Linked DNA regions of Homo sapiens. The protein of the gene in region 1 purifies or fractionates together with the protein of each later gene. This does not show direct contact. Each region holds a gene or a part of one and is shown in the gene's direction. Other genes may lie near its edges. The genes, in order: ERAL1, FASTKD3, FAM120A, ZER1, ATAD3A, MCAT and COL1A1.

The links.
Region 2: the proteins of ERAL1 (region 1) and FASTKD3 purify together in Homo sapiens (tandem affinity purification; one large-scale study listed by IntAct). This does not show direct contact.
Region 3: the proteins of ERAL1 (region 1) and FAM120A purify together in Homo sapiens (co-immunoprecipitation; 2 studies listed by BioGRID and IntAct, with this or other methods). This does not show direct contact.
Region 4: the proteins of ERAL1 (region 1) and ZER1 purify together in Homo sapiens (co-immunoprecipitation; one large-scale study listed by IntAct). This does not show direct contact.
Region 5: the proteins of ERAL1 (region 1) and ATAD3A purify together in Homo sapiens (tandem affinity purification; one large-scale study listed by IntAct). This does not show direct contact.
Region 6: the proteins of ERAL1 (region 1) and MCAT purify together in Homo sapiens (affinity purification with mass spectrometry; 2 studies listed by BioGRID and IntAct, with this or other methods). This does not show direct contact.
Region 7: the proteins of ERAL1 (region 1) and COL1A1 purify together in Homo sapiens (affinity purification with mass spectrometry; 3 studies listed by BioGRID and IntAct, with this or other methods). This does not show direct contact.

The regions. Positions count from the first base shown.
Region 1 is NC_000017.11:28,853,538-28,858,167, forward strand, and holds the start of ERAL1 (GTPase Era, mitochondrial), read left to right. Parts: upstream 1-1,478; 5' UTR 1,479-1,497; coding exon 1,498-1,780; intron 1,781-2,726; coding exon 2,727-2,854; intron 2,855-2,967; coding exon 2,968-3,045; intron 3,046-4,401; coding exon 4,402-4,448; intron 4,449-4,608; coding exon 4,609-4,630. UniProt on the Homo sapiens protein: Probable GTPase that plays a role in the mitochondrial ribosomal small subunit assembly. Specifically binds the 12S mitochondrial rRNA (12S mt-rRNA) to a 33 nucleotide section delineating the 3' terminal stem-loop region.
Region 2 is NC_000005.10:7,862,257-7,866,293, reverse strand, and holds part of FASTKD3 (FAST kinase domain-containing protein 3, mitochondrial), read left to right. Parts: intron 1-310; coding exon 311-396; intron 397-3,296; coding exon 3,297-3,471; intron 3,472-4,037. UniProt on the Homo sapiens protein: Required for normal mitochondrial respiration. Increases steady-state levels and half-lives of a subset of mature mitochondrial mRNAs MT-ND2, MT-ND3, MT-CYTB, MT-CO2, and MT-ATP8/6.
Region 3 is NC_000009.12:93,454,583-93,458,480, forward strand, and holds part of FAM120A (constitutive coactivator of PPAR-gamma-like protein 1), read left to right. Parts: intron 1-3,898. UniProt on the Homo sapiens protein: Component of the oxidative stress-induced survival signaling. May regulate the activation of SRC family protein kinases. May act as a scaffolding protein enabling SRC family protein kinases to phosphorylate and activate PI3-kinase.
Region 4 is NC_000009.12:128,761,531-128,765,567, reverse strand, and holds part of ZER1 (protein zer-1 homolog), read left to right. Parts: intron 1-4,037. UniProt on the Homo sapiens protein: Serves as substrate adapter subunit in the E3 ubiquitin ligase complex ZYG11B-CUL2-Elongin BC. Acts to target substrates bearing N-terminal degrons for proteasomal degradation with the first four residues of substrates being the key recognition elements.
Region 5 is NC_000001.11:1,528,840-1,532,388, forward strand, and holds part of ATAD3A (ATPase family AAA domain-containing protein 3A), read left to right. Parts: intron 1-383; coding exon 384-492; intron 493-3,549. UniProt on the Homo sapiens protein: Essential for mitochondrial network organization, mitochondrial metabolism and cell growth at organism and cellular level. May play an important role in mitochondrial protein synthesis. May also participate in mitochondrial DNA replication.
Region 6 is NC_000022.11:43,140,213-43,144,851, reverse strand, and holds the start of MCAT (malonyl-CoA-acyl carrier protein transacylase, mitochondrial isoform a precursor), read left to right. Parts: upstream 1-1,453; 5' UTR 1,454-1,503; coding exon 1,504-1,926; exon of another isoform or gene 1,927-1,960; intron 1,961-3,602; coding exon 3,603-3,690; intron 3,691-4,639. UniProt on the Homo sapiens protein: Catalyzes the transfer of a malonyl moiety from malonyl-CoA to the free thiol group of the phosphopantetheine arm of the mitochondrial ACP protein (NDUFAB1). This suggests the existence of the biosynthesis of fatty acids in mitochondria.
Region 7 is NC_000017.11:50,188,132-50,191,631, reverse strand, and holds part of COL1A1 (collagen alpha-1(I) chain preproprotein), read left to right. Parts: intron 1-141; coding exon 142-249; intron 250-707; coding exon 708-815; intron 816-1,035; coding exon 1,036-1,089; intron 1,090-1,251; coding exon 1,252-1,305; intron 1,306-1,523; coding exon 1,524-1,631; intron 1,632-1,719; coding exon 1,720-1,773; intron 1,774-1,899; coding exon 1,900-1,953; intron 1,954-2,093; coding exon 2,094-2,255; intron 2,256-2,356; coding exon 2,357-2,464; intron 2,465-2,621; coding exon 2,622-2,729; intron 2,730-2,836; coding exon 2,837-2,890; intron 2,891-2,994; coding exon 2,995-3,102; intron 3,103-3,482; coding exon 3,483-3,500. UniProt on the Homo sapiens protein: Type I collagen is a member of group I collagen (fibrillar forming collagen).

The DNA.
Region 1 (4,630 bases):
TCTAGATTACTTATAATATCTAATACAATGTAAGTGCTATATAAATAGTTGTTATACTGTATTGTGTTGTATTTTTGTTGCTATTGTTATTTTAGAGATGGGGTCCCTGAAATCCCGTGATAGAGATTTCTGTCTGTTTTGTTCACTGATGTATTCCCAGCACAGGACAGAGCTTGCTAGTGGATGCTTTATACATCTTCCTCCATAGTCAGGCATGTTAGCATGTGCCTGTAGTCCTAGCTACTCAAGAGGGCTGAAACTGGAAGATCGCTTGAACCCAAGAGTTTCAGGCTCCAGTGAGCTATGATCATGCCACTGCACTCCAGCCTGGGTGACAGAATGAGCACTGACTCTAAGAACCTTCCTTCCTCAACACCCCCTCTACCAAAGTTTATCTCTGTTTCTTTTTTTTTTTTTTTTTTTTGAGATGGAGTCTCGCTCTATCGCCCAGGCTGGAGTGCAGTGGTGCAATCTCAGCTCACTGCAAGCTCCGCCTCCCAGGTTCACGCCATTCTCCTGCCTCAGCCTCCTGAGTAGCTGGGACTACAGGCGCCCGCCACCACGCCCGGCTAATTTTTTGTATTTTTAGTAGAGACCGGGTTTCACCGTATTAGCCAGGATGGTCTCGATCTCCTGACCTCGTGATCCGCCCGCCTCGGCCTCCCAAAGTGCTGGGATTACAGGCGTGAGCCACCGCGCCCAGCTCTCTGTTTCAAGTGTTTGATTTAGAGGCTACAAAGGATGAAGAGGGCTCAAGGCCTCAAACAGAGCAAGGTAAATGAGTTTCTCCGGCTGCTAGAGCGGTCTAGGAGACCTTAGGTGGCTAAGCCACTTCTTCCTCCTTTGCAAACCCTCTGGTTGTTCTCCATAAAGGAATGACCTCAGATAGTAGACAGTAGCCAAGGCTTACAGGAGGGAAATCCAGACCTGCTCTTCATCCCAAACACCGACCCAAGGACCACTCCTTCCAGGAACCTAGCCTAAAGCAAAGGTGCAGACAGCCCGGGGCCACCGCTGACCTCTAGGGCAAGCCAAATTAAGGCTGGGAGAGGATCCTGCAGGCCAAAGGATGGAAAGGACTAGGAACAAACAACAACAAAACCCTTACGGGGACAGGCGGAACAGTGCCCCCTCCCACTCCCACAACCATTCCTCCCTCGATGGGAGGACGATTTCTGCTATTTGGCCTCATGGGAAATGTAGTCTTTTAGGAGACATGGCCAGAAGGGCCGTTTACAAAACTTTGGCAGAAGAAAAAAATACGTTGTGTATGGGAGTCCAAAACTACCGTCATGCTTGCACAGACTCTAAATACACATTTTCCCCTTTCCTTAGCCTCCACCAGTCTCCAGAGCAATTCCTCCTCCCGCCCACATCCCATGTGTCTCGGCTTTCAATTTGGGCAGACCTACCTCTCTCCTACTCGCTGGTTCGTCAGCCGCTCTGTTCAATCGTAGGAGCGCTCCTGGTCGGTTCCCGCAGTGCCTTGCGGCTGTAATGGCTGCCCCCAGCTGGCGCGGGGCTAGGCTTGTTCAATCGGTGTTAAGAGTCTGGCAGGTGGGCCCTCATGTCGCGAGGGAGCGGGTGATCCCTTTTTCCTCACTCTTAGGCTTCCAACGGAGGTGCGTGTCCTGCGTCGCGGGGTCCGCTTTCTCTGGTCCCCGCTTGGCCTCGGCTTCTCGCAGTAATGGCCAGGGCTCTGCCCTGGACCACTTCCTCGGATTCTCTCAGCCCGACAGTTCGGTGACTCCTTGCGTCCCCGCGGTGTCCATGAACAGAGGTAAAGCGCCCTGATAGGTTTGCTCGGAACTGTCATGTTTTTAGTATTGAAAGGTTTCTGGGGATACTGTCTTTGATTCTATTTTATAGAAAACAATTTTGAGGCCCTGACAGGGAGGAGCAGTGAAAAATCTCTCAGGAGAGAAATAACAGTTTGAGTGGGAGAAGGAAACGATCTGGTCACAACCAGAGACGCTCACTAAAGAGCATGAGATTGAAGGGCCACAAAGTGGAACTATGGCTCTGCACCCCGACATGGGAAGCAAATTTGATCCAGTAAATGCATGTTGGGCCTCATCTTCTTGTTAAGACACAGTTACACCTGGAAAACAGCACACTTTATTCTTCAAACAGTGTCCGGTATTGGAGACTGGACACAAACTGGTCATTGCAAAATGGTGTCATAAGAAGATAATATAAAAAGACTGGGCCCTCTCCCTTCTTGACCCTTAGCCCTTCCTCCCGTCCCTCCTTCAGGAAAAAAAAAAAAAAAGACTGGGAAAGCTTGCAGGGCCTTCATAGCACCCTTAGTAGGGTGAGAGAATGAGAGCTGAGGAAATATCTGGCTTTGTGTAATCCAGCTTGCTTTCATGTACATTCACTTCTCAGGCACAGCTATACATTATAATTACATGCAGTAATTATTAAGTGCCAGGTATTGTGCTGAGTTGTTTTACACAATTGCTAGTCATCAAAAAAATTATAAGCTGGTAAGTAGGTACTGTTAATATCAACTCACTTTTACATATGAGAAAACTAAAGGGCTCAGGGAGTTACTTTATAAATTAATGTAAATTAAGGGCCAAAGTCTCAAAGTCAGCTCTAGGTGACTTCAACCTGGTGCACTAATTTTGTACCCCTGCTCCCTTTGTGGGTGGGCAGGAACAAGCACTTGACAGGAAATCCAGATTCCACTGTGTCTCATGCTTCTTCCCACTTGCACATAGATGAGCAGGATGTCCTCTTGGTCCATCACCCTGATATGCCTGAGAATTCCCGGGTCCTACGAGTGGTCCTCCTGGGAGCCCCGAATGCAGGGAAGTCAACACTCTCCAACCAGCTACTGGGCCGAAAGGTATGCTACACCCTTGACCATCCTACCCTTTACATCTTTTACTTCTTGCCATGCCTTCAAGGATGGTCTTGGAGGGATCTGGGACCTCACTGAGACTCCTTTGTTCCTGGCAGGTGTTCCCTGTTTCCAGGAAGGTGCATACTACTCGCTGCCAAGCTCTGGGGGTCATCACAGAGAAGGAGACCCAGGTGGTGGGTACCTACAAAGGGAGTCCTTGAAACAGGACAGAGGGTGAAGCTAAGAGGGTCTCCCTTACCATCAGCCTTGAAGAAAATGATGGTCACATTCATTTATGTGAGGAAAGGGGGTTTCTTTTCTTTTTCTTTTTTTTTTTTTTTGAGATGGAGTCTCACTCTGTCTCCCAGGCTGGAGTGCAGTGACGCGATCTTGGCTCACTGCAAGCTCCACCTCCCAGGTTGACGCCATTCTCCTGCCTCAGCCTCCTGAGTAGCTGGGACTACAGGCGCCTGCCACCACACCCAGCTAATTTTTTGTATTTTTAGTAGAGATGGGGTCTCACTGTGTTAGCCAGGATGGTCTCGATCTCCTGACCGCGTGATCCGCCTGCCTCAGCATCCCAAAGTGCTGGGATTACAGGTGTGAGCCACTGCGCCTGGCCAGGAAAGGGGGTTTCCTCTTCCTTTAGGCATGGTACAGTTCTGTCTCTACCTTGCCCTCCCCTGACATCTAGTCAGAAAGATTTCATTCTCTCGCTCTCTTTTTTTTTTTTTTTGAGATGGAGTTTCACTCTTGTTGCCCAGGCTGGAGTTCAATGGCATGATCTCAGCTCACTACAACCTCTGCCTCCCGGGTTTAAGCAGTTCTCCTGCCTCAGCCTCCCGAGTAGCTGGGACTACAGGCATGCGCCACCACGCCCGGCTACTTTTGTATTTTTAGTAGAGATGGGGTTTCACCATGTTGGCCAGGCTAGTCTCAAACTCCTGACCTCAGGTGATCCGCCTGCCTTGGCCTCCCAAAGTGCTGGGATTACAGGCATGAGCCACCACGCCCAGCCGATTTCATTCTCTGTTTACTGCTTCCTAATCTTCCTTATATTCACAGTCATCATCTTTCTCCCAGATCCCATCAAAGCAGAATGGTAGAAACCTAAGGTCAGCCTGGGCGCAGTGGCTCACGTCTGTAATCCCAGCACTTTGGGAGGCCAAAGCAGGCGGATCACTTGAGATCAGGAGTTCAAGACCAGCCTGGCCAACATGGTGAAACCCTGTCTCTACTAAAAAAATACAAAAATTAGCCGGGTGTGGTGGTGCACGCCTGTAATCCCAGCTACTCAGGAGGTTGAGGCAGGAGAATTGCTTGAACCCGGGAGGCAGAGGTTGCAGTGAGCTGAGATTGTGCCACTGCACTCCAGCCTGGATGACAGAGTGAGACTCCGTCTCAGAAAAAAACAAAAAACAAACCTAAAGTCAATAATAGTTTGACTGAGAAGGGAGGGCAGGCTCCTGACATCACAGGTAGCCTCTCTCTGACTTCCCAGTCATAATCTTTTCTCCTGGGGTCTGGGTATCTCACTTTCCTGATTTTAGATTCTACTTGACACACCTGGCATTATCAGTCCTGGTAAACAGAAGAGGTAATGGTGGTGGAATTGGGGTGGATTGGCGGGGAGGTACTGAAAGAGGGTGGGGAGATTCCATTATAGGGGCTGGAAAACCCCTTTACCATACCACATCCCTCATCAGAAATGCCTTAGTCATAAGACCTTTCCTGACTGATGTATGTCTGTCCCTCAGGCATCACCTGGAGCTCTCTTTG
Region 2 (4,037 bases), on another chromosome or scaffold:
CTTAATTCAAGGCCACCCAAATATGTCAAATTTCCGGAACTCCATAGTTAAAGGAAATTTCCACTAATTCTGTGAACATATTTTATCTCTTTTAATTGTATTCTGTAGCTAGGAGCTTGGGTTCTTGGAAGTCAATTTCATTGGTGGCAAGAGGAGGGCATAATTAATTCTAACAAGTTCATTTCATAGTGTCATTTAAAAATAGAATACTTCTGTCTGGAGTGTGTAAATTGATGTTGAATGTTCATGATGTTCTCTCATACATACCTCAATTCAGACGTAACTATGACTGGGATGCTTTCTGTTTCAGGTAAAGAATCTCATTTGGACACATTGAGTCGGGCACAACTGACCCAACTTTTCTTAGCCTCAGTCCTGGAATGCCCTTTCTATAAGGTAAAAGCATGAACTATATGTGGCTTTATTTCCCCATGGGTGCAGTTTCCTTTTAAGTTCCTTTACTTCTGATCTGTCTCAATAACCTGAAAAAGCAGAATTTCATTTACTTGGAGTCAGTTGCCACCAGATAGGCTTTTCTTTGATAAATGGACCCCATTTTTGTGTTCTTGTTCTTGAAGGAACAATTTCCTGCTGTTTAAGATTTCTTAGGAGGTTTTATCAAGTGCTGCAGGCATGTGAGTTACAGTATTTCTCCATTCTCTCTGAAGGTTTTACAGGGTTTTAGTACTAGGTTTACTACTAGGTTTCCCATAGCTGTTTGTTATCAAAGTGTGAATGTCTGGACTGAACAAATACCTAAATTATTTGCAAGTACAGTATATTTTTAAGCCAAGCCAGAAATTTCACTTTTATCTAATAGAGTTTAGTTTATCTAGAGTTCGCTCTTCCCATAAAGACCTATAAAGATTTATCCTATTACCTATCACATTCCTTATGTAGAATCAGAAATAGCACACCAGACTATGACATTCTCTCTCTGCTTCTCTCTACTTGACTCTGAATCATAGTTTAGAGTATCTGATTTTTGAAATAAGGTAATAAGAATGGAAAAATACCCCTTTTTTAAAACAGCTTAGACAGTACTAAGTTATATAAAGATAAATAATAGTTAACCCCGATCTCTTACCATTTCTAAAGGAACAGTATTAAAAGCAGTTTCTACGCCCAAATGTATACAGATACATAAACACTGTCTATTTTTTTTCTCTTTTCAAGGAATGAGACTCACTAATCAAAGTACAATTTGCTTTTATGCGCAGTATATCATGGCCATCCCTCGAGGCCAGTGCATACAGATCACATGCATTCTTTTTAGAAAGGCATGATATTTCATGGTGTTTATTCTACTATTGATGCACTTGGAGGTTTTTGCAACTTTTGTCTCTATCGGGAATGCTATAATAAACATTCTTGCAAATCCTGTCATACTAGAGCCTTTTTGGTTTTTTTCATATATAAACTAGATTCCCAAAAATGTGATTAGTGGATTAATTTTTGATGGATACTGGCAGATTTTTTTTCCCTAATAGTTACAGATGTCACATTTCCCCAGCAATGAATGAAGGTGGCCATGTCTCCTCCACTTCTATTGCAGTGTGTTAGTAGTCTCTTTAATTTGTGTTACTCAACTACATGAAAGAGGATATCATATCATATATTTAAGTTGCATTTTAATGAGCATTAATGAAGTTTAGCATATTTTCAAATATGTGTTGGCCATTTACATTTCTTTTGAATTGCCTTTCTACACCTTAATTTATTTCTGTTGGATGGTTTGTCTTTAAGGACTCATTGTAAAACAGATATTAACTATTATGAATGTTGTACATATTTTCCCGATTTGTACTCTTTTATTACTTTTTAATATTACTTATGATGTATTTTTAAATGTTCTGTAGTCGAATCTGTCTTTTATGACTTCCGAGGTTCCTATCTCAAGAGCATGAATATTTTACATTTTTAAAAATAATATCTTTTAAATTTTATTTAGATCTTTGATCTAAAAGTAAAATTGAATTTTTATTTATGTATTCTAATTAACAAAAATTGTATATACTTATTATGTTCATGTTGTTTTGAAATATGTATACATTGTAGAATGGCTAAATCAAACCAATTAACATGTGTATTACCTCCATATCTATCATTTTATTTTGTGGTAAGAATATTTAAAATGTACTCTTGCCGTGCGCAGTGGCTCATGCCTGTAATCGCAGCACTTTTGGAGGCCAAGGCGGGTGGATCACCTGAGGTCAGGAGTTCGAGACCAGCCTTGCTAACATGGTGAAACCCTGTCTCTACTAAAAATACAAAAAATTAGCCGGGCATGATGGCACACGCCTGTAGTCCCAGCTACTCTGGACTCTGAGTTAGGAGAATCGCTCAACCCAGGAGGCGGAGGTTGCAGTGAGCCGAGGTCGCGTCATTGTACTCCAGCCTGGGCAACAAGAGTGAAACTCTGTCTCAGAAACAAAAACAAAAACAAACAAAAAAAAAGGTAAAAAAGTACTCTCAGCCATTTTCAAGCACGCAATCATTCTTATTAACTATAGTCAGCATGTTGTACACCTGGAATTTATTAGCATCTGTCATGGATGACAGAAGTTTAATTTAGTTATTTTCCAAATAAATAACCATTTTCTCCAGCATCGTTTATTATATTGCTATCCTTTTCTTCCTAAACTGGAATGTCATTTATATCACATTTTCCATTACAGATTGAGTATCCCTTATCCAAAATGCTCAGGACCAGAAGTGTTTCAGCTTTCAGATTTTTTCATATTTTAAAATATTCTCATTATATTTACCAGTTCAGCATCCCTAATTCAAAAATTTGAAATCCAGAATGCTTCATGAGCATTTTCTTTAAGCAGCCTGTCTGTGCTTAAAAGGTTTCGGATTTTGGAGCATTTTGGATTTTGGATTTTCAGATTAGAGAAATTAAACCTGTGTTGAAAACTTTAGTTGTGTGTACTTAAGACCCTTGGGACAATTCTCAGTTCTAAAAATGTTTCTTGAACTGTTAGCATTATTATGTTTCTTCTCACTCTCTCCTCACTCCTTTTTACCTTCCTTCTTTACTTTTCTTTCTGTTTATGGTAACCAGTGACTACTGTAAAAACACATATAAAAGACATTTTGAACTATTAGACTTGCACTGTAAGAAGAGAAGTTTGCATTATCATTTTGAGAGAGATGCCTGTCCCAATTCCTGGAAAAGTATCATGCCTATAAAGTAATGTTATATCAAACTTTTCTACCTAGGTAACCTTCAATTTATTCTCTGTTGTTATATCTTATTTTTCTTTCTCACATTTGCACTTATGATTTTTTAGGGTCCAAAACTCCTTCCTAAATATCAAGTGAAGTCATTTCTTACCCCATGCTGTTCCCTGGAGACCCCTGTGGATTCTCAGCTTTATAGATATGTGAAGATTGGGCTGACTAACCTTTTAGGAGCAAGATTATATTTTGCTCCAAAAGTGTTGACACCCTATTGTTATACAATAGGTAAGTAGTATAAGGAGTTTTGTTGTTTTAAACCTAAGCATCCTGTTCGATTTTGGAGATATATGGGACTTAGAAGCAATAGAAGTTCTCTGGAAATGCAAAATGGAATGGTCCCTTCCCTGAAGGCAAGTTGGGGTTAGCAGCAGAGCCGTTGAGTCAAGACTGTCTGGGTTTAAGTCTCAAATATTAGCCACGTAGTAGCAGAATATCCTGGGCAGAATATTTAACCTTTTTCTGCTTGCTTCTTCCTCTGTAAAATGATAGTAATATTGACCTCAAAGACTTACTTAAGGTCTAAATAAAATAGTACCTGGAACGTAGGAAATGCTCACTAATTGTTAGCTACTACTATAACCTAGGCTTGTACTGTCCAAATATAGTAGCCACTAGACCATGTGGCTATTTAAATTTAAATTATTAAAAGTTTAAGAAAATTCAATTCCTCAGTCACATTGTAAGTGCTCAGTAGCCACATGTGGCTCATGGCTGCCAAATTGGACAGCACCATTATAAAGATTTCCACATCACAGAAATTTCTCCTGGACAGCACTGACAAGAGACTCCAA
Region 3 (3,898 bases), on another chromosome or scaffold:
GAGCACCATTAATAGCAAGAAGTGACAAGAGAGATTTAAAAAGCTATAAAAAGCAAACATAATTCTGGGGCTATTTTAAGAAAAGGAAAACAACCCTATGTACTTCCTTGGTCCCTGAGGGTAGTACAATGTTTATTCTATAAGGATGATTTTGAGTCATAAAAATTAATATTCAGCATTCTCTGTTTAAGGGATTGAAACAGTGTATACCATTTAATAAAAGATACCCATAAAGTGGTTAAAACGTTTAAAACCATGATATCACTACATGCCTATTAGAATGGCTAAAAGAGAAAAAAATATGAGCAATACCAAGTGCTAGCAAGAATGCTGAGCAACTGGATCCTTACACATTGCTTGTGGGAATGCAGAATGGCACCACCACTCCAGAAAACAGTGGCACTTTCTTATAAAGTTAAACATACATTTATCATACGATCCAGCAATTCCACTCCTGGGTATTTTCCTAATGAAGACTTTTGTTTGTGCAAAAACTGGTACTCAAATGTCCATAGCAGCTTAATTCATAATAGCCCAAACGTGGAAACAAAGTATCCTTTAATAAGTGAATGGTTAAACTACAGTATAGCCATACTATGGAATACTACTTAGCAATAATAAGGAAGGAATTGCTGGTGTAGGTAACAACTTGCATGAATATTTAATTAAGGTTTTATACTGAGTGAAAGAAGCCAGGTTCAAAAGGGATGATTATAAAACTATAGTGATAGGGACCAATTCAGTGGTGCTGAGAGTAGAGGAGGGGAAGGATGTACACATAAAGGGGACAGCAGGAGAGATCTTTGTGGAGTGATGGAACTGTTCTGTATTCTGATGGTGGTGATGCTACCATACATTAAAATCAGAACTATTCATCCAAAGTAAATGTGTTAATTTTATCATATGATAATTTTTTTAAGATTAAGTAAAAACCACTGGCAAAGGAATTGACATGAACAATTCAGTATATATAATGTTGAGTAAATGAGACATTTATAAAAACTTTAAGCATCTTATTGGTGCTTTCTAGTGTTTTGTAAATTGGCAGAGGGGCATAATTTCCTGTTACCTTTGCTTAGAGAAATCTTTTTTTTTTTTGAGATGGAGTCTCACTCTGTCTCTCAGGCTGGAGTGCAGTGGCGCGATCTCGGCTCACTGCAACCTCCACCTCCTGGGTTCAAGCGATTCTCCTACCTCAGCCTCCCTAGTAGCTGGGATTATAGGCGCCTGCCATCATGCCTGGCTAATCTTTGTATTTTTAGTAGAGGCGGGGTTTCACCATCTTGGCCAGGCTGGTCTTGAGCTCCTGACCTCGTGATCCACCTGCCTCGGCCTCCCAAAGTGCTGGGATTACGGGCGTGAGCCACTGCGCCTGGCCAGGAGAAATCTTTTTTGATTTAGAGATTATTTCTTTTACAGAGTAGTAATTGTATTTTTTTGTTCAGTAGTAGTAATTGTATTTCTTTAACCATTAGAAGTTGGTCTACATGGAAAGACAGCCAGAACAATGAAAATAATAATACTTTGGCCTATGTATTGACTAGTTTTGTGTAGGTCCTAAAATAGCCTAATTTGAACTTGGCTTTAGCTAGTTACTTGGACAGTGTTTCTTCTTGTGTGCCTTGGGTCATTATAACCTTTGAAACTTCAGTGAATGACTTATGTTTATTTTAAAATCTTAGTGGCATGAAGTCACTGGAGCTTTCATAAATGTTTCTGCTATATGACTTGTGGTATCAGTGTAAGGGTTTATAATAAAGTCCTTCAGATCTTCTGAATTTGCTTCCATTGGAATTTTGTTAAATAATGCTCTTACATAAAATGGCGTTCATGCTATAAGTCAGTGGAAGAATGTGAGGTTAGACTATGGTTTAGAATTTTCATGGTTAGCATAATTACATGTTTGTATTTAGAGATGATGGTCTCCCTTCATGTATACTTGATGGGGGAAGAGAATGAACTGGTATCAGACCAGGTGCTTGCTAGATCCTTTCTCACATATTCCATCTCATTTAATCCTCAGAGTGCTTTGTTACCCCATTTTTCATGTGTAAAAACAGGATCTAGTGATTAAGTGACATCTGGGGACAAGTCATTAGTAACCTCAAGACGGAAGTGGAGTGCTAAAGTCAAAGTTCAGCTTCTTTGTGTAAGAATACTTTGTGGGTGTGCCTACCTACAATTCTCACCCCCAGGTCAATTACGATAGCTAACTGCTTCAGCTATGTTTTCTAGTTAGGATAGGAACAGTCATGTTGCTATTCAGAAGAAAAATGTCCATCAGTAGATCCTGGACACTGACAGTACATCTTATTCTTAAGGACCTTTAATTGACTGGAAGATTTTTAAGGTTCAAAACTGACCATATTATACCTCAAACTAGTCACTGTATATATTTCTCTGTTGTACTACTTTTGTCACTAGTTTAATTCACATAGCATAATGTCTTCAAGCTTCTTTCATGTTGTAGATTGTGTCAGAATTTCCTTAACTTTTAAGGCTAAGTAATACTCCACTGTGTATATGTACCACATTTTGTTTATCCATTCATCCACTGGTGGATACTTGGGTTGCTTCCACTTTTTGACTATTGGGAATAATGAATAATGCTTCTATGAGCATAGTATACAAAGAGCTGTTCGAGTTCCTGCTTTCAGTTCTTTTGGGTATATACTCAGAAGTAGGATTGCTGGGTCATATGGTAATTCTGTTTTTCTTTTTAAGGAATGGCCATATATTTTCCACAGTGGCTGTGTAGGCCATATATTTTATGTCATAAGTTATATAATATATATTATTATAATATAGTTCCATTTTTTCACATTAATGTGATTGCACTATACGTTATTCAGCAGTTTGCTTTTTTATTTGTAAGAAATCTTTCCATGTCTATACTTAGAGCTCTAAGTCTTTTCAGTCCCTAAATAGTATTCCATAATTTATCCAACCCCGACAGATGGTATACACATGATATATACACACAGTAGAGCTAAAGGTATGCACATTTTAAAAGCCACGTAGGACCATAGAGTCAACATTACCAGAACTTCAGACTTTGCAAGAAAGCCAGAAACCCAGATTTTTAAAAAAATTATTCCATTTTAAAAATGCCAAGCGAAGGAAAACTTGGTTCTAAGTTAGCTTCAGCTCTTGTGCCACCAATTTGTTATTTGAGCACTGATCTTTATCAACAATTATCATGGTCATCTAAATCTCTTCCTTTTTTTTTTTTTTACTTTAAAATTAAACCTATCAAAAACCACTCTGTCTTTTCCTGTCTGCCTCCTTGAACCTTTTTCAATGATCAAAATGCTTCCATTTCCTGGGGTTACTGCAATATGATGTTTCCTTAAATGCCACAATCCTCTTGGCCACTTCCATAGTATATTCTTCATTATATACTTCTCAATATTACATATTTTGAGGTGAGTGCTAACCCACATGTTTATTTGACATCTCACCATTTCCAAGGCACAGCCTCACTGTCCTCAAACACTTCAGCACCTGGTTTTACATTCTTATATATTATTTATACTGTGTCCCATCAACACAGACACTGACTCTTCACCTCTCTCATCTGGCATCCTGATTCTGCAACTGGAGTGAATTTCTAATTGCACTTTAGATACTCCAGAGCTTGGACCGTATAATTAGTGAGAAAAGTGACCCCACCTTTAACACTTCTGAACGCTGTGTCCCTGTCACTCCTTGCCGCTCCCACCGTCTGTCCCCTGCTTGCCTTCCGCCATTTCTCTTTTCCCATTCTGTTGGCTTCCTTTTTAGCTGTAACTAGCTTGAACTTCATGATCATTCACTTCAGAGTTACACCCTCTACCACCATAGAGTCATGCTTGGTATTCCAGCATCCCATCCTCCCAGTCCCTAGAATAATGACACA
Region 4 (4,037 bases), on another chromosome or scaffold:
CTCCCACCTCCAGACTTCAGTTTCTCTTTCCCTCCCATTGTTTGGATGGATGGACTGAAGACCAAATATTTGGTGAGAAGCGGGGGTCTGCTTTAGGTTTGCATCCCACTCTCATCAGTTTTGTGATCTCAGGCAAGCTTCTGCTTAGTTGTGTATGCGTCAGTATCTTCATCAGAAAATGGGGTAATAATCTCTATCTTGCAGTACTAGAGTAAGGGAATTCCAGCCACAGCAAACCTTTGTTCTATTAAACACCAGGCATAAATTGGGCACCGAAGTCAGACACCAAGGATACAGGTGCGTGCGCGCTTGCGCACGTGTGTGTGTGTGTGTGTGTGTGTGTGTGTGTGTGTGTACATGTGCATGGATGCAGGCATGCAAGCAAGCATACAGCTTCTGTCCTCCCAGAGCTCACAGGCAGTAGGAGGGTGTCAGTTGACAAATTGTTATGTAAATGATTAATTAGTTGCAAGTACAGGGTACTAGGAAATATTTTGTCGGTTGAGTAAGAGACTCGAGGGAGTAAAGCCTGTAAGGAGCTTAGGACCACATCTGGAAGCAGCCAACATGGACGTGGTATGGCGGTGCCTTCTGCTGCTGCTGCTGCTGGTGCTGTTTTTCTCTCTCTTCTCTCCCACTTCCTTCATTCCCCAGGATGTCGAATGTTCATGATAGACCTAGTATTAGAGAACATGCAAGAAAAGGGATGGAGAAAGACACAGGGTTCTCCCAGTGTGGTGGTCGGTCATAACCAGAGCTCCCTCTGTCCTCAGTTGCTGGAATTCCAGATGGCCTGTGACTGCCCTGAGAATGACAATCCCTAAGGAATGGAGTAGGTAGAGTGGAGTAGGTAGAGATGGCTGCCTCTGGCAGGTGCCAGGCCCGCAGCTGGATGGGTCTCAGGGCATGGTAGCCCCGGGGCCCTTCAGTCTCTGTGCCAGGATGTAAGATGGCTGCTTCCTCTTCCAGCTCATTCCAGCCCTGAGTGGCAAGGTCAACACTGCTAAGGGGAGGCTAGCAGATGGCGCCATCTACCTGGCTTATGTTTTGGGGGCTTTTGGTGACCGTGACAACTGACGTGGTGGTGTTTCTTCCACTTGGGGAGCATGGTAAGGGCAGAGCAGCTGCCTAGGTAACTGGGCTCAGACCTGCAGAAAAGGCAAAACCCCAGTGGCTCTCCCTCATTCAGAGCCTCCGAGCCAAGAGGCATCATTTGCAGCCACTGGGCGCCCAGCAGTGTCCTGAGTGCAGCAAGCAGGGAGAATGCGAGAGTGTACTATACCTCCCAGGCCTCGTGCAGACCTCTGATGGCGAGTACTTTGTCATTCCTTCCACAGGCCTTTGTTGAAACCTCACCTTGTGGCAGGCCCCACATTGAGTGTTCAGTGCTTCCTTTGTTCATTTAGCAAATAGTCATGGACCTGGGCCCGTAGTGCCAACGTCCCATGCACCCCCTCTCCTTGCAGCTTAGGTACTTCTTTGCTTCCTCCCAAAGCGCCTTCCCCTTCTCTCCCCTCCACCAGAGTTAACTAGGACTTATCTTTTGGGTCCCAGCTGAAATGTCACTTCTTTTTTTTTTTTTGATGGAGTTTTGCTCTTATTGCCCAGGCTAGAGTGCAATGGTGTGATCTTGGCTCACTGCAACCTCCGCCTCCCGGGTTCAAGCAATTCTCCTGCCTCAGCCTCCCGAGTAGCTGGGATTACAGGCGTGCGCCACCAGCCCAGCTTATTTTTGTATTTTTAGTAGAGACGGAGTTTCACCATGTTGGCCAGGCTGGTCTCGAACTCCTGACCTCAGGTGATCCACCTACCTCAGTCTCCCAAAGTTTTGGGATTACAGGTGTGAGCCACTGCACCTGGCCTGAAATGTCACTTCTAAGGATACCTGCTCTGACTCCCCAGTCCAGGGCAAGTCCCCTGATTGGGCATCCAGAGCCCCAGGCCCCTTCTCCTGCAAGACACTGGTCCCAGTTACGCGACAGGCGCTTATGGGCCCTGTAGGTGGATCTGTCTCCCTCCGGAGCCAGTACGCTCCATGTGGTCAAGGACCTTGTCCGGCTCGCTCACCAAGGACCCCCAGTGCTCAGCAGGGACTGAGTGAGCAGGTCCAGGGAGGTGATACCAAACAAGACAGCCTGGTTTTGCCCTCATGGACCTGGCCATCCATCAAGGATGCTGAATCATCAAAGCCACATCGTACCAAGTGTTCATTGCTGTGGTAGATCGGGCCTGTGGGGGGACTCAGCAGGCACACCCTGGTGGGTTAAGCATGGCTTCCCAGAGGAAGTAACTTTGACACTGGGACCATAGGTATCAGCTACGTGAAAGGAGAGTTCAAAGATCATGTGGGCTGGAGTGGCCAGGAGATACTTCCTGGAGGAAGGACATGGAGTGTATTTGGGTAGGGGAGGGGAGAAGGCAGTATTTAAATTAGAAAGTGCAGTAATTAGTTGAATTTGGATGGTCCTGGTTGAAAGAGAACAGACTGGGCAAAGGTCTGAAGGTGACCTGTGCCGAGGGCCTTTTGCCAGGACAGTGAATGATGAGGCCAGGCTGGCTGGAGTAGGGGGGCAGTGGGGACCAAGTAGGCCAGAAAGCTGGCTGTAATTCCGGTGGGCTTGAAAAGAGTTGCTTTCCAAGAGTGGGGACTCTCTGCCAGCAGTGCTCCCTCTGGTTCCAGTTTCCCAGGCAAGAGAGGCTGCTGGGCTCTTAAAGATCTTGAAGCAAATGAAGGCAAAGGAAGGCCATGCCCGGGGCCCAGGCATCCTGGCTTTTGTGCCTTCCCTCGAGGGTGCCATGCTGCCAGTGGGACAGCTGACACAATGAGCCTTGTTGTGGGAGACCCAGGCCGGGGAGCACAGGCCCGGAGCTGGGAGCCAGGGCAGATGAGGTAGGAGAAGGTAATGATTATAACAACAACATAATAACGGTTGTCTTTATTGAGCAATGACTACATGCCAGACACCGTTCTAAGCCCTTTTGATATTATTCCATGGAATCTTCACACCGTGCTGGGGATGAGGTATTGTGCTGCTTCTATTTTAGAGGAAAAGTGACTGAGGCACAGAGAGGTGGAGACACTTGCCCAAGTTTGTCTCCTCGTGAGCAGCAAGGCTGAAATGTGAGCTATGCCTGCCTGAATCCACAGCCCATCCACACACAGTCCCCAGTAGACAGTGGTGCCACAGTTGAACTCAGAACTGGCTGATTCCAAAGCCCAGTGTGCCCTGTGGCTTCCCGCTGGATTTCCTGAGCAGTCTGGAAGGTTTACAAATGGGCACAGAGGGAGGCTCCCAGAAGCTGGGACAATGCTGGGCCCCAGAACTCCAGAACCCTCTAAGTCAGGGGTGTCCAATCTTTTAGCTTCCCTGGGCCACACTGGAAAAGGAACTGTCTTGGGCGACACGTAAAATACACCAACACTAACAACAGCAGATGAGCTAAAAAAAAAAAAAAGTCCATAAATGTCATAATGTTTTAAGAAAGTTTACAAATTTGTGTTGGGCTGCATTCAAAGCTGTCCTGGGCCACATGCAGCCCATGGACCACAGGTTGGACAAGCTTGCTCTAAGAGATGTGAGGGATTCCACGAGACCAGGTTCCAGTCTAGTTTACACAGCTCCCTCTGTTTGACCTTGAGTTTCCTCCTCTATAAGATGGGGTCAGCCGGGCGCGGTGGCTCACGCCTGTAATCCCAACATTTTGGGAGGCTGAGGCGGGCGGATCACAAGGTCAGGAGTTCGAGACCATCCTGGCTAACATGGTGAAACCCCATCTCTACTAAAAATACAAAAAATTAGCCGAGCGTGGTCGCAGGCGCCTGTAGTCCCAGCTACTTGGGAGGCTGAGGCAAGAGAATGGCATGAACCCAGGAGGCGGAGCTTGCAGTGAGCCGAGATCGTACCACTGTATTCCAGCCTGGGTGACAGAGTGAGACTCTGTCTCAAAAAAAAAAAAAAAAAAACAAATTATGGGGTCATAGGGCTGGACATGGTGGCTCATGACTGTAGTTCCACCATTTTGGGAGGCGAGGCGGG
Region 5 (3,549 bases), on another chromosome or scaffold:
GGCTCCCCCACCCCCATGGCTGCTCGTAGCCCTGGCACCATGACTTGGCTTCTGTGGCCTCCAGGCAGACGCTTTTGCTAGAAGTCGGGGCTCCGCCACTGCCAGCATAAAGGCCACCTGCCCTGCGGGTGCTGAGTGAGCAGCTGTGGGCAGGGCTGGTGTGAGGAGTGGTTGGGGCCATCTCCAGGCCCTGCAGCCACTCCCTGCTCAGTCCGGGCCTGGCCTGCAGCAGGGAGGATGTGGAGCTGGGCTGTCAGAAGTAGAGAGCCCCTCCAAAGAGGATGTTTGGCGTGGGTGTCGGCCTCGCTGCCTGTCTTCCGGCCTCCACCTCGTGTTGTGGGAGCTGCTGCCTTGGCCGGCCCACTTGGGAACTCCTTCCCCAGGCGCCTGAAGCTGGCCCAGTTTGACTACGGGAGGAAGTGCTCGGAGGTCGCTCGGCTGACGGAGGGCATGTCGGGCCGGGAGATCGCTCAGCTGGCCGTGTCCTGGCAGGTGAGTCAGGCTCCGGCACGTCCACCCAGACGGGACCCCAGCTGCTGTGGAGATGCTCAGTTGCGCCAGGCCTGTCCCAGCACCGGTGTCACGCGGGAGCTTCTGTTGAGGGGTTTTCAGTGCACAGAGGTGACACAGGGCCCCCTGCCCCAGTCAGGCCACTCCACGAGGCATCGCGCACCTGCTCGTGCCCTCAGGAGGGTGGAGCCATGTCGGTGGCTGACAGTCACCCGGGGCTCTCTGGAGGCCAGTCTGGCATCGCCGTAGCCCGAGCTTTGCCAGGTGGGGCTGGAGGCTTCTGACTCTCACCTTGGCCAATAGGCACCTCCCTGTGTAAATGGTCGTTAGGACAGGCCCCATGTGAGTTGGGGGTTCGGGGTGGAGGGACATTGTGTTTTCTGGACCAAGTCTGTGGGCTTGGTCCTGCTTGACACATGGGTGGGAGTGGCCTCTGGTTGTCCCACAGCCAGTTGTTCTTCGGGGACACCCCTCCTGCAGCTCCGTGGCTGCTCCAGGGCTGAGGAGCCAGGACTCACAGGAGTGTGGGCGTGGCCATCCAGAAAGCTTTGGTCTTTGGGGGTTGCTGGAAAAGCAAAACCAGGTTGGTGGGGCAGAAGGCACCCTGGCCACGCACAGGCATCACCACCTCTGGGGTCCGCAGAGTCTGTGTAACAACCTGGTTCCTCAATCTAGCAGTGCTTTTGAATGAACGTGTGACAGCTTAATGAAGCAGCCGAGTACCTTGATTTGAATGTTGGAGCCGGGGTTCACAGGGGGCTGTATTAGTCAGTACAGGCTGGGTTATGCCACTGTGACAAAGAGCCCCAGATCTCAAACCCCGTCCTTGTGGGTCAGCTGAGGTCTCTGTTCCAGGCCATCCCCACTTGGAACCAGGTCTGTTTCCACAACTAAGAAAGCAGAGGCCGGGTATGGTGGTGGCTGACGCTTGTATTCCCAGCATTTGGGGAGGCCAAGTTAGATTATTTGAAGCCAGGGGTTTAGGACCAGCCTGGAAAGCAAGGCAAGACCCCATCTCTACAAAAAATGAAAAAATTAGCTGGACCTGGTGGCACATGCCTGTAATGCCAGCTGCTTGGGAGGCTGAGGTGGGAGGATCACTTGAGTCCAGGAGGTGGAGGCTGCAGTGAGCTGTGATTGCCACTGCACTCCAGCCTGGATTACAGAGCAAGACCCTGTCTTAAAAACTAAGAATAATGGCCGGGCGCGGTGGCTCACGCCTGTAATCCCAGCACTTTGGGAGGCCGAGGCGGGCGGATCACGAGGTCAGGAGATCGAGACCATCCCGGCTAAAACGGTGAAACCCCGTCTCTACTAAAAATACAAAAAATTAGCCGGGCGTAGTGGCGGGCGCCTGTAGTCCCAGCTACTTGGGAGGCTGAGGCAGGAGAATGGCATGAACCCGGGAGGCGGAGCTTGCAGTGAGCCGAGATCCCGCCACTGCACTCCAGCCTGGGCGACAGAGCGAGACTCCGTCTCAAAAAAAAAAAAAAAAAAAAAAAAAAACTAAGAATAATTTGGAACGAGTGCGGTGGCTCACTCCTGTAATCCCAGCACGTTGGGAGGCTGAAGTGAGAATATCATACACCTGAGGTCAGGAGTTTGAGAGCAGCCTGGCCAACAAGGCCAATCTCACCTCCACTAAAAATACAAAAATTACCCCGGCACATTTGTGGTGTATGCCTGTAGTCCCAGCTACTCAGGAGGCTGAGCCAGGAGAATCTCTTGAATCCAGGAGGCGGAGGATGCGGTGAGCTGAGATGGTGCCACTGCCCTCCAGCCTGAGCAATAGCGTGAGACTCCATCTTAAAAAAATAGTAATAGGCCAGGTGCAGTGGCTCACACCTGTAATCCTAGCACTTTGGGAGGCCAAGGCGGGCAGATCACGAGGTCAAGAGATGGAGACCATCTGGCCAAATGGTGAAACCCCATCTCTACTAAAAATACAAAAATTAGCTGGGTGTGGTGGCGCATGCCTGTAATCCCAGCTACTTGGGAGAATGAGGCAGGAGAATCACTTGAACCCGGGAGGCGGAGGTTGCAAAGAGCCGAGATTGCACCACTGCACTCCAGCCTGGCAACACAGTGAGACTCCATCCCAAAAAACGAAAACGAAAACTAAAAATAATAATAACTGGGGCTGGACGGGCGCGGTGGCTCATGCCTGTAATCCCAGCACTTTGGGAGGCCGAGATGGGCGGATCATGAAGTCAGGAAATCAAGACCATCCTGGCTAACACGGTGGAACCCCATCTCTAATAAAAAATACAAAAAAAAAATTAGCCAGATGTGGTGGCGGGTGCCTGTAGTCCCAGCTACTTGGGAGGCTGAGGCAGGAGAATGGCATGAACCCGGGAGGCAGAGCTTGCAGTGAGCCGAGATCGCACCACTGCACTCCAGCCTGGGCGACAGAGCAAGACTCTGTCTCAAAAATAAAAAAATAAAAAATAAAATAATAATTTGGGCTGGGCACGGTGGCTCACACCTGTAACCACAGCACTTTGGGAGGCTGAGGCAGTGGATCTCCTTGAGTTCAGGTGATCTGCCCCCTTTGTCCTCCCAAAGTGCTGGGATTACAGGTGTGAGCCACCATGCACGGCATCTTGAATTCTTTTCTCATAAAAGGGTTTTGAATTTGGTCGAATGCTTTTCCTGCATCAGATGAGAGGGTCATGTAGTTTCCTTCCTCCACTCGGCTAATATTGATTGATTTTTGTATGTTGAACATTTTTTATGTGGAACATTGATTGATTTTTGTACGTTGAACTATCCTTGCATTCCAGGAATAAATCCTGCTTGGTCAGGGTGTATAATTTTTTTATTATACTCCTGAATTGGTTTTGCTGGCATTTTGTTGAGGACTTTTCCAACGATGCTTATCAGGGATATTGGCATGTCATTTTTCTTGTGGTGTCTTTGTCTGGCTTTGATATGAGGGTAATGCTGGCCTCTTAGGATGAGTGAGGAAATGTTCTTCAATTTGTCCAAGAGTTTGAGGAGTGATACTGATTCTTCTTAATGTTTTGTGAATTCACATGT
Region 6 (4,639 bases), on another chromosome or scaffold:
GCAATTCTCCTGCCTCCGACTCCCAGGTAGCTATGATTACAGGCATGTGCCGCCACGCCCAGCTAATTTTTGTATTTTTTGTAGTGAGGGGGTTTCACCATGTTGACCAGGCTAGTCTTGAACTCCTGACCCCAGGTGATCTGCCCGCCTCGGCCTCCCAAAGTGCTGCGATTACAGGCATGAGCCACCGCACCCAGCCTTTTTTTTTTTTTTGAAACGGAGTCTTGCTCTGTCACCCAGGCTGGAGTGCAGTGGTGGGATCTCGGCTCACTGCAACCTCTGCTGCCCGGGCTTAGGGGATTCTCCTGCCTCAGCCTCCCGAGTAGCTGGAACTATAAGCGCCCACCACCACGCCCAGCTAATTTTTGTATTTTTAGTAGAGACGGGGTTTCTCCATGTTGGCCAGGCTGGTCTTGAACTCCTGACCTCAAGTGATCCATCTGCCTCAGCCTCCCAAAGTACTGGGATTACAGGCATGAGCCACTGCGCCTGGCCGAGCCTGTGTCTCTTGAGTTGCTTTTAGGTTAACATTAGATAACCCCAATTTCCAACCTCCATTCTGTCACTAACCACCTGTCACTCAATCTCTGAGCAGCTATCCATCACAGCGTTGCTGTGAGGAATTAAATAAGCTAATATCTGAAACACATTCAAGGCTTTGTTCAATAGCATAAAGATCTATTGGATGCTTATTATGTGCCAAGCACTGTGTGGTTTGTAAGAAAACATTATAAAAGAGAGCTGTTGTATAGTTGGGAACTGGCAACGGATGGTCGGCCATGCCAACTCCTGTGGTTGGGAGGATCATATGCAAGAAATGTGGTTGCTGGCCGGGCGCGGTGGCTCACGCCTGTAATCCCAGCACTTTGGGAGGCCGAGGCGGGTGGATCACCTGAGGTCAGGAGTTCGACACCAGCGTGGCCAACATGGTGAACCCGTCCCTACTAAAAATACAAAAATTAGTCAGGCATGGTGGCGGGCGCCTGTTAATCCCAGCTACTCGGGAAGCTGAAGCAGGAGAATCGCTTGAACCTGGGAGGCGGCGGTTGCAGTGAGCAAAGAACACGCCACTGCACTCCAGCCTGGGCGACAGAGCAAGACTCCGTCTCAAAAAACAACAACAAACAACAACAACGACAACAACAAAAACCATCAATGTGGAAGAGTTTCAAGTGCTCTTCATGTGCCAGGTAGAAAGCGTAAATACTACATTGCGTTGCGTTATTTATTCCATAAATATCTGTTGAGGACCCACTGTGGTGTGGCATCGTGTTCCGTTCAACGGCTATGGCTGTTTAAGTAAACGCATGAGTCCCTCCAGGACCCCAGAACGCAGCCCGAAGGGCCTCAGAGCCGGGGCGGAACCAGCGTCTGCGGAACCTTTCTTCCCGCTCCCGGTGCCCCGGAAGCCCCGGCAGGAAATGCGTCAGGGACCACGCTGCGCCGCGCCGCCGCAGTCGGGCCTCGGTCGCCACGGTAACGCGCGCGGGCAGGTGTCCGACCATGAGCGTCCGGGTCGCACGGGTAGCGTGGGTCAGGGGCTTGGGCGCCAGCTACCGCCGCGGCGCCTCGAGCTTCCCGGTGCCTCCGCCGGGCGCCCAGGGTGTAGCGGAGCTGCTGCGAGATGCGACCGGGGCGGAGGAGGAGGCGCCCTGGGCGGCGACGGAGCGGCGAATGCCGGGCCAGTGCTCCGTGCTGCTCTTCCCGGGCCAGGGCAGCCAGGTGGTGGGCATGGGCCGCGGTCTGCTCAACTACCCGCGCGTCCGCGAACTCTACGCCGCCGCCCGCCGCGTGCTGGGCTACGACCTGCTGGAACTGAGCCTGCACGGGCCGCAGGAGACCCTGGACCGCACCGTGCACTGTCAGCCCGCGATCTTCGTGGCATCGCTGGCCGCTGTCGAGAAACTACATCACCTGCAGCCCTCGGTGAGGCCCGAGGCCCCGTGACAGGAGGGGGAAGGTGAGCTCTGCCTGAGCTCTTGGCCCTGCCAGAGGCTTCCGCCTGCCATTCCGGGGGCTCCCACGTCTTACTCATTCGATCGAGTTTTTTTTTTTGTTTGTTTTTGTTTTTTTTTTTGAGACGGAGTCTCGCTCTGTCGCCCAGGCTAGAGTGCAGTGGCGCGATCTCGGCTCCGCCTCCCGAGTTCACGCCATTCTCCTGCCTCAGCCTCCCAAGTAGCTGGGACTACAGGCGCCCGCCACCATGCCCGGCTAATTTTTTGTATTTTTAGTAGAGACGGGGTTTCATCGTGTTAGTCAGGATGGTCTTGATCTCCTGACCTCGTGATCTGCCCGCCTCGGCCTCCCAAAGTGCTGGGATTACAGGCATGAGCCACCGTGCCCGGCCCGTTTTGTTTTGTTTTTTGAGACAGAGTCTTGCTCTGTCACCCAGGCTGGAGTGCAATGGCGCAGTCTTGGCTCACTGCAACCTCTGCCTCCCAGGTTCAAGCAGTTCTCCTGCCTCAGCCTCCGCAGTAGCTGGGATCACAGGTGCACACCACCACGCCCGGCTAATTTTTTTATTCTTTACTTAAATCCTCCCAGGTTCACCCACCTCGGCCTCCCAAAGTGCTAGGATTACAGGTATGAGCCACTGCACTGGCCTAAATGAAGGAACATTGAGATGAGTTGAGAATGTCACTTCACTTGAAGGTGGTGGATTGATTGCTATTAATATTTAATAAGACGGTAAATGTTAAGCTAGCACTTGAGATCCTTTACCCTATTTCACCTTCACACCACCTTGTGAGGTTAATACTGTTATTTGATGGTTGAGGAATGCAGACTCAGGGATATTAAAAGAATTAGTTAAGTGGTCCTGTTGAATCGTCATCATAATATTCATTCACTGCTTACCCTAGTCTGGGTCTGTGCTAAGCACTGTATAGACATTATATTCACATAATTCTCTCATCCGCCCTTTGGGGTAGGCCCTGTTCTTCCCTCATTTCACAGATGAGATAAAAATGCTCTTGGCCGGGCGAGGTGGCTCACGCCTATAATGCCTATAATCCAGCACTTCAGGAGGCTGAGGTGGGTGCATCACGAGGTCAGGAGTTCAAAACCAGCCTGGCCAACATGGTGAAACCCCGTCTCTACTAAAAATACAAAAATTAGCCAAGTGTGGTGGTGGACACCTGTAATCCCAGCAACTCGGGAGGCTGAGGCAGGAGAATTGCTTGAACCCGGGAGGCGGACGTTGCAGTGAGCCGAGATCACGCCATTGCACTCCAGCCTGGGCAACAAGAGCAAAACTCCGCCTCAAAAAAAAAAAAGTCATGCTCTTAACTTGTGCACAACGATATGGCCTGAGAGCCTGCTGCAGGGCCATGGCAAGGGAATCCAGAGCCCTGGGTTGGCGTCAGTGTGACCATGGACGGAGTTGATGGACTGTAACTAACCAGGAAAGCTCCTCCTAAATAAAGGGGCAGGACTCAATGATTGTCAAGGTCACTTTTGTGTGTCCTCTTCCAGCTGGTGCACCAAGTTCGTAGAACCTGGCTCACTGAGATGCTGAACACCCCGCCAGCTCTCAGGTACAGAGCCCTGGAACTGGGATCCCCAGGAGAGTGAGGGCTCACGTTCTGCATCTGTCCCCACAGGTGATTGAGAACTGTGTTGCTGCTGCTGGATTCAGTGTGGGAGAGTTTGCAGCCCTAGTGTTTGCCGGAGCCATGGAATTTGCTGAAGGTACAGGAAGGAGTTTGGTTTTATGCAAGGCTGTGGTCTTGGGCTCATTAGGGGTAAGGGACACTGCCAAAAATGATACTGGACCCACTCAGGTGATGGGAAGGGAGCACATGGACAGGGGTGACATTGGCACATGAGGACAGGGCTTTGCTGTGATTCCTTTTCAAGACTGAAGGATTCATTAGGGATTTCCCTTATTTTTGTAATCTCATGAAATCTGCTTGCTGAACTGTCTAACCCGCTATCCTGTGCACTCATACCTGCAGCACCTGCAACACGAGAGTATGTGTTCAGTAGATATTCGTTGAATTAAAGAGTAAATAAATATTGGATCTGGAGCCATATCAGTTTTACTTCTTAAGATTTTTGCTGGCCAGGAACCATGGCTTACGTCTGTAATCCCAGTGCTTTGGGAGGCCAAGGCAGGAGGACCACTTGAGGCCAGGAGTTCCAGACCATCTTGGGCCACATAGTGAGACCTTCATCTCTGCCCCCAACAAAAAACAAAAATTACGTTGGGTGCAGTGATTCACACCTGTAATGCCAGCACTTTGGGAGGCAGAGGCAGATAGATGTTTGAGCCCAGGAGTTTTAGACCACCCTGGGCAACATGGTGAAAACCCCATCTCTACCGAAAATACAAAAATTAGCCAGGCATGTTGGTGTGCGCCTGTAGTCCCAGCTCGAGTACTTGGGAGGATGAGGTGGGAGGATTACCTGAACCCAGGAGGTCAAAGCTGCAGTGAGCTGTGATCGTGCCACTGCATTCCAGCCTGGGTGACAGAGTGACACCCTGTCACACACACACACATACACAAAATTAGCTGCACTTAGTGGCATGCATCTGTAATTCCAGCTACTCAGGAGGCTGAGGGAAGATCACTTGAGCCCCTGAGTCTGAGGCTGCAGTGAGCCACGATTGTGCCACTGCACTGCGGCATGGGTGACA
Region 7 (3,500 bases), about 21 Mb from region 1:
TGGGCTGTGAGTCTTTTCATCTTTTCTCAAGGCTTGTCGTTGGCCTTGGAAACAAGCCTGGGAGATACCAAGCGGGGCTTAGGGCTGTGACCCACTCTTGGGGCCCCAGGCCTCACTCCAGTCTTCTTGGTTGTCACATAGGGTGATGCTGGTGCCCCTGGAGCTCCCGGTAGCCAGGGCGCCCCTGGCCTTCAGGGAATGCCTGGTGAACGTGGTGCAGCTGGTCTTCCAGGGCCTAAGGGTGACAGAGTAAGTTCAACCTTCCCCCTCCCCTGAGCCCTACATGGCTCCCATCTCTGCCTGCTTTGAATCTCTCAGCATCTCTCCTTCTCTCTGGGATCTGTCCCTCTTCTCGCTAATCCTCCCTTCTTCCCCTTTCCCCTCTGGCCTTTTTGCTGATGAATCCTCTCCCTGTGGTCCAGGCCCATCTATCCCCATGGGTTACCATGGTGATGAGAGGTGGGGGCATCTCCTTGGTGGAGGCTCCCTTATTCATCCCGCTACACAAGTCAGGGGCCTCTTAACCTCAGTTCCACCTGAGTCTCCAGGCAGGCACCCTTTTTCCTGAAAGAATCTTTGAGTCCTTGGCCCAGGTGGAGGCAGGGCAGAGCTGCAGAGGGCCTCTCAGGAAACCCAGACACAAGCAGAACACTATAGGTCACCTCCTTGCCCCACACTGGAAATCTCAAGCTTATCCATGTCTTTAGGGTGATGCTGGTCCCAAAGGTGCTGATGGCTCTCCTGGCAAAGATGGCGTCCGTGGTCTGACTGGCCCCATTGGTCCTCCTGGCCCTGCTGGTGCCCCTGGTGACAAGGTGAGGTGGCCGCCTCCCCACCTTCTGCCCTAACACATAGCCTCCTCAGCAGGCCTGGGCACGGTTCCGTGGGGTTGCGTTGGGAGAGCAGGTCCTGCCAAACTGAGCTGTCAACCTGGGAACCTGGAGGGACCAGAAGGAGGGGAGGCTCTCCTGGGGTCATCTACTAGGAGTATTCAGGGGAGGCCCTGACCCTGAGCCTCTTGTCCCTTGCTCTCAGGGTGAAAGTGGTCCCAGCGGCCCTGCTGGTCCCACTGGAGCTCGTGGTGCCCCCGTAAGTACAGAAGACCTGTTAAGACCCCATACTTGGCCCTTCCCTCCCTTCACACAGCACCCCTGGCCCTGTCTGTGCCTTCACCCCTTGCCTCTCCCCTCACCGCATCCCCGCCTTCCCTCCTGTCAGCGCATCTCTCCAATCTGACTCCTTTTCTTCTAGGGAGACCGTGGTGAGCCTGGTCCCCCCGGCCCTGCTGGCTTTGCTGGCCCCCCTGTGAGTACCAAGACCCCCATCATTTTTCATCACCGACTGGGACCTGGGACCTCGAGGGACGGAATGAGGACAAAGGCGTCAGCCATCCTCAGGGGAGAAGGGTGGAGACGGGATTGTTTCCCACCCAAGCATCTTCCTGCCTCCATTACTGCTCCTCCCCCAGGTAGTGGAAACTCCTGCCTCCTTCCCTCCATTCACCGCCCTGCTTCCTCCCCCAGGGTGCTGACGGCCAACCTGGTGCTAAAGGCGAACCTGGTGATGCTGGTGCTAAAGGCGATGCTGGTCCCCCTGGCCCTGCCGGACCCGCTGGACCCCCTGGCCCCATTGTGAGTGGCTTGGCCCTCTGTGCCCACGAGGCTGGTGGGCTGGGACCCAGGACGGGTCCAGGCTTGATGCCTCTGTGCTCTCCTACAGGGTAATGTTGGTGCTCCTGGAGCCAAAGGTGCTCGCGGCAGCGCTGGTCCCCCTGTGAGTATCACCCGCCTCTCTGTTGAGCCTCTCCCCTCTCCCCAGGCAGCGGTGGCAGGTGAGGGCAGCTGGGTCGGATGAGTTGGCTGTTCTCCCTCTGACTGTTCCTATGTTCTCTCCTTCCAGGGTGCTACTGGTTTCCCTGGTGCTGCTGGCCGAGTCGGTCCTCCTGGCCCCTCTGTAAGTCTCTGCAGCAGAGTCCACTGCTCTAGGTTGGGGGTGCTGGGTGGGGGCTGCCAGAAGGATGGTGGGGCTGACTGAGGACCCAATGATGCACCAGAGCCCCCTGGAGTCTGACAGCCCCTCCTATCCTCATCCAGGGAAATGCTGGACCCCCTGGCCCTCCTGGTCCTGCTGGCAAAGAAGGCGGCAAAGGTCCCCGTGGTGAGACTGGCCCTGCTGGACGTCCTGGTGAAGTTGGTCCCCCTGGTCCCCCTGGCCCTGCTGGCGAGAAAGGATCCCCTGGTGCTGATGGTCCTGCTGTAAGTGCCAGCTCAGATCTCTGCAGCTCCGGAGGTGTGCAGAGCTGGGGAGGGGTCCCTGTGCTGCTCTCTGGCACCTCACCCCTGTTTGCCTCCCAAAGGGTGCTCCTGGTACTCCCGGGCCTCAAGGTATTGCTGGACAGCGTGGTGTGGTCGGCCTGCCTGGTCAGAGAGGAGAGAGAGGCTTCCCTGGTCTTCCTGGCCCCTCTGTAAGTGCCCCCCTCACCTTGGGGGGCCCTGAGAAAAACCATCACAGGACTTGGAGTGGGGCGGAGCCAAGGAGAACAGATTTGGTAGAGATGACTCCAGCGGACTCAAGGGTCCTCCCAGACCCTATCTCTGGCCTGACTCTTTCTTCTCCCTTAGGGTGAACCTGGCAAACAAGGTCCCTCTGGAGCAAGTGGTGAACGTGGTCCCCCTGGTCCCATGGGCCCCCCTGGATTGGCTGGACCCCCTGGTGAATCTGGACGTGAGGTGAGCAGTCCCCAGCCCCCATGCCAGTACCCTCAGCATGGCCATTGTGGCCTTGCCTAAGCCCTCTTCCCCGGCTGACTCTCACTTCTCTCTCTCTCTCTCTGCAGGGGGCTCCTGGTGCCGAAGGTTCCCCTGGACGAGACGGTTCTCCTGGCGCCAAGGTAAGATGGCAACACTCCATGACCACAGCCTTGTCTGCTGCTTCCCTGCCCCATCCTGGCCCTTCACCCGGGGCTGACCCATATTCCCCTGCTCTCCCCGCCAGGGTGACCGTGGTGAGACCGGCCCCGCTGGACCCCCTGGTGCTCCTGGTGCTCCTGGTGCCCCTGGCCCCGTTGGCCCTGCTGGCAAGAGTGGTGATCGTGGTGAGACTGTAAGTAGCTGGGCTCCAGTTCCCTGTACCTGGTCAGGCCAGGGACTCTTCAGGCCTCCTTAGAGGCCTGGGGATGGGTGTCGGACTTCACCCAGGCAGGGGGAGGAAAGGAGATCCTGCAAGATGTCAGGGCCTTAATCCAAAAAACTGAGTTAAAGCTCAGCCCCAAGTCCCCTCTCCCAGACAGGACCGCCTCTCCCATGAGTTGGCCCCAGCTCCCGTGAAGATTGCAGTGGGGAGGTTTCCCTGGGAGTTGGGAGAGATGGCCACAGTGGGAAGCAGCTGAGGAGAGAGAGATCCAGCAGAGGGGAGGCCTCATCCTGCAGCCCCAGCCTCAGCCTTCCCTGGCCAAGAGCTCATGCTTTCCTTGCTCTCCCCAGGGTCCTGCTGGTCCCGCC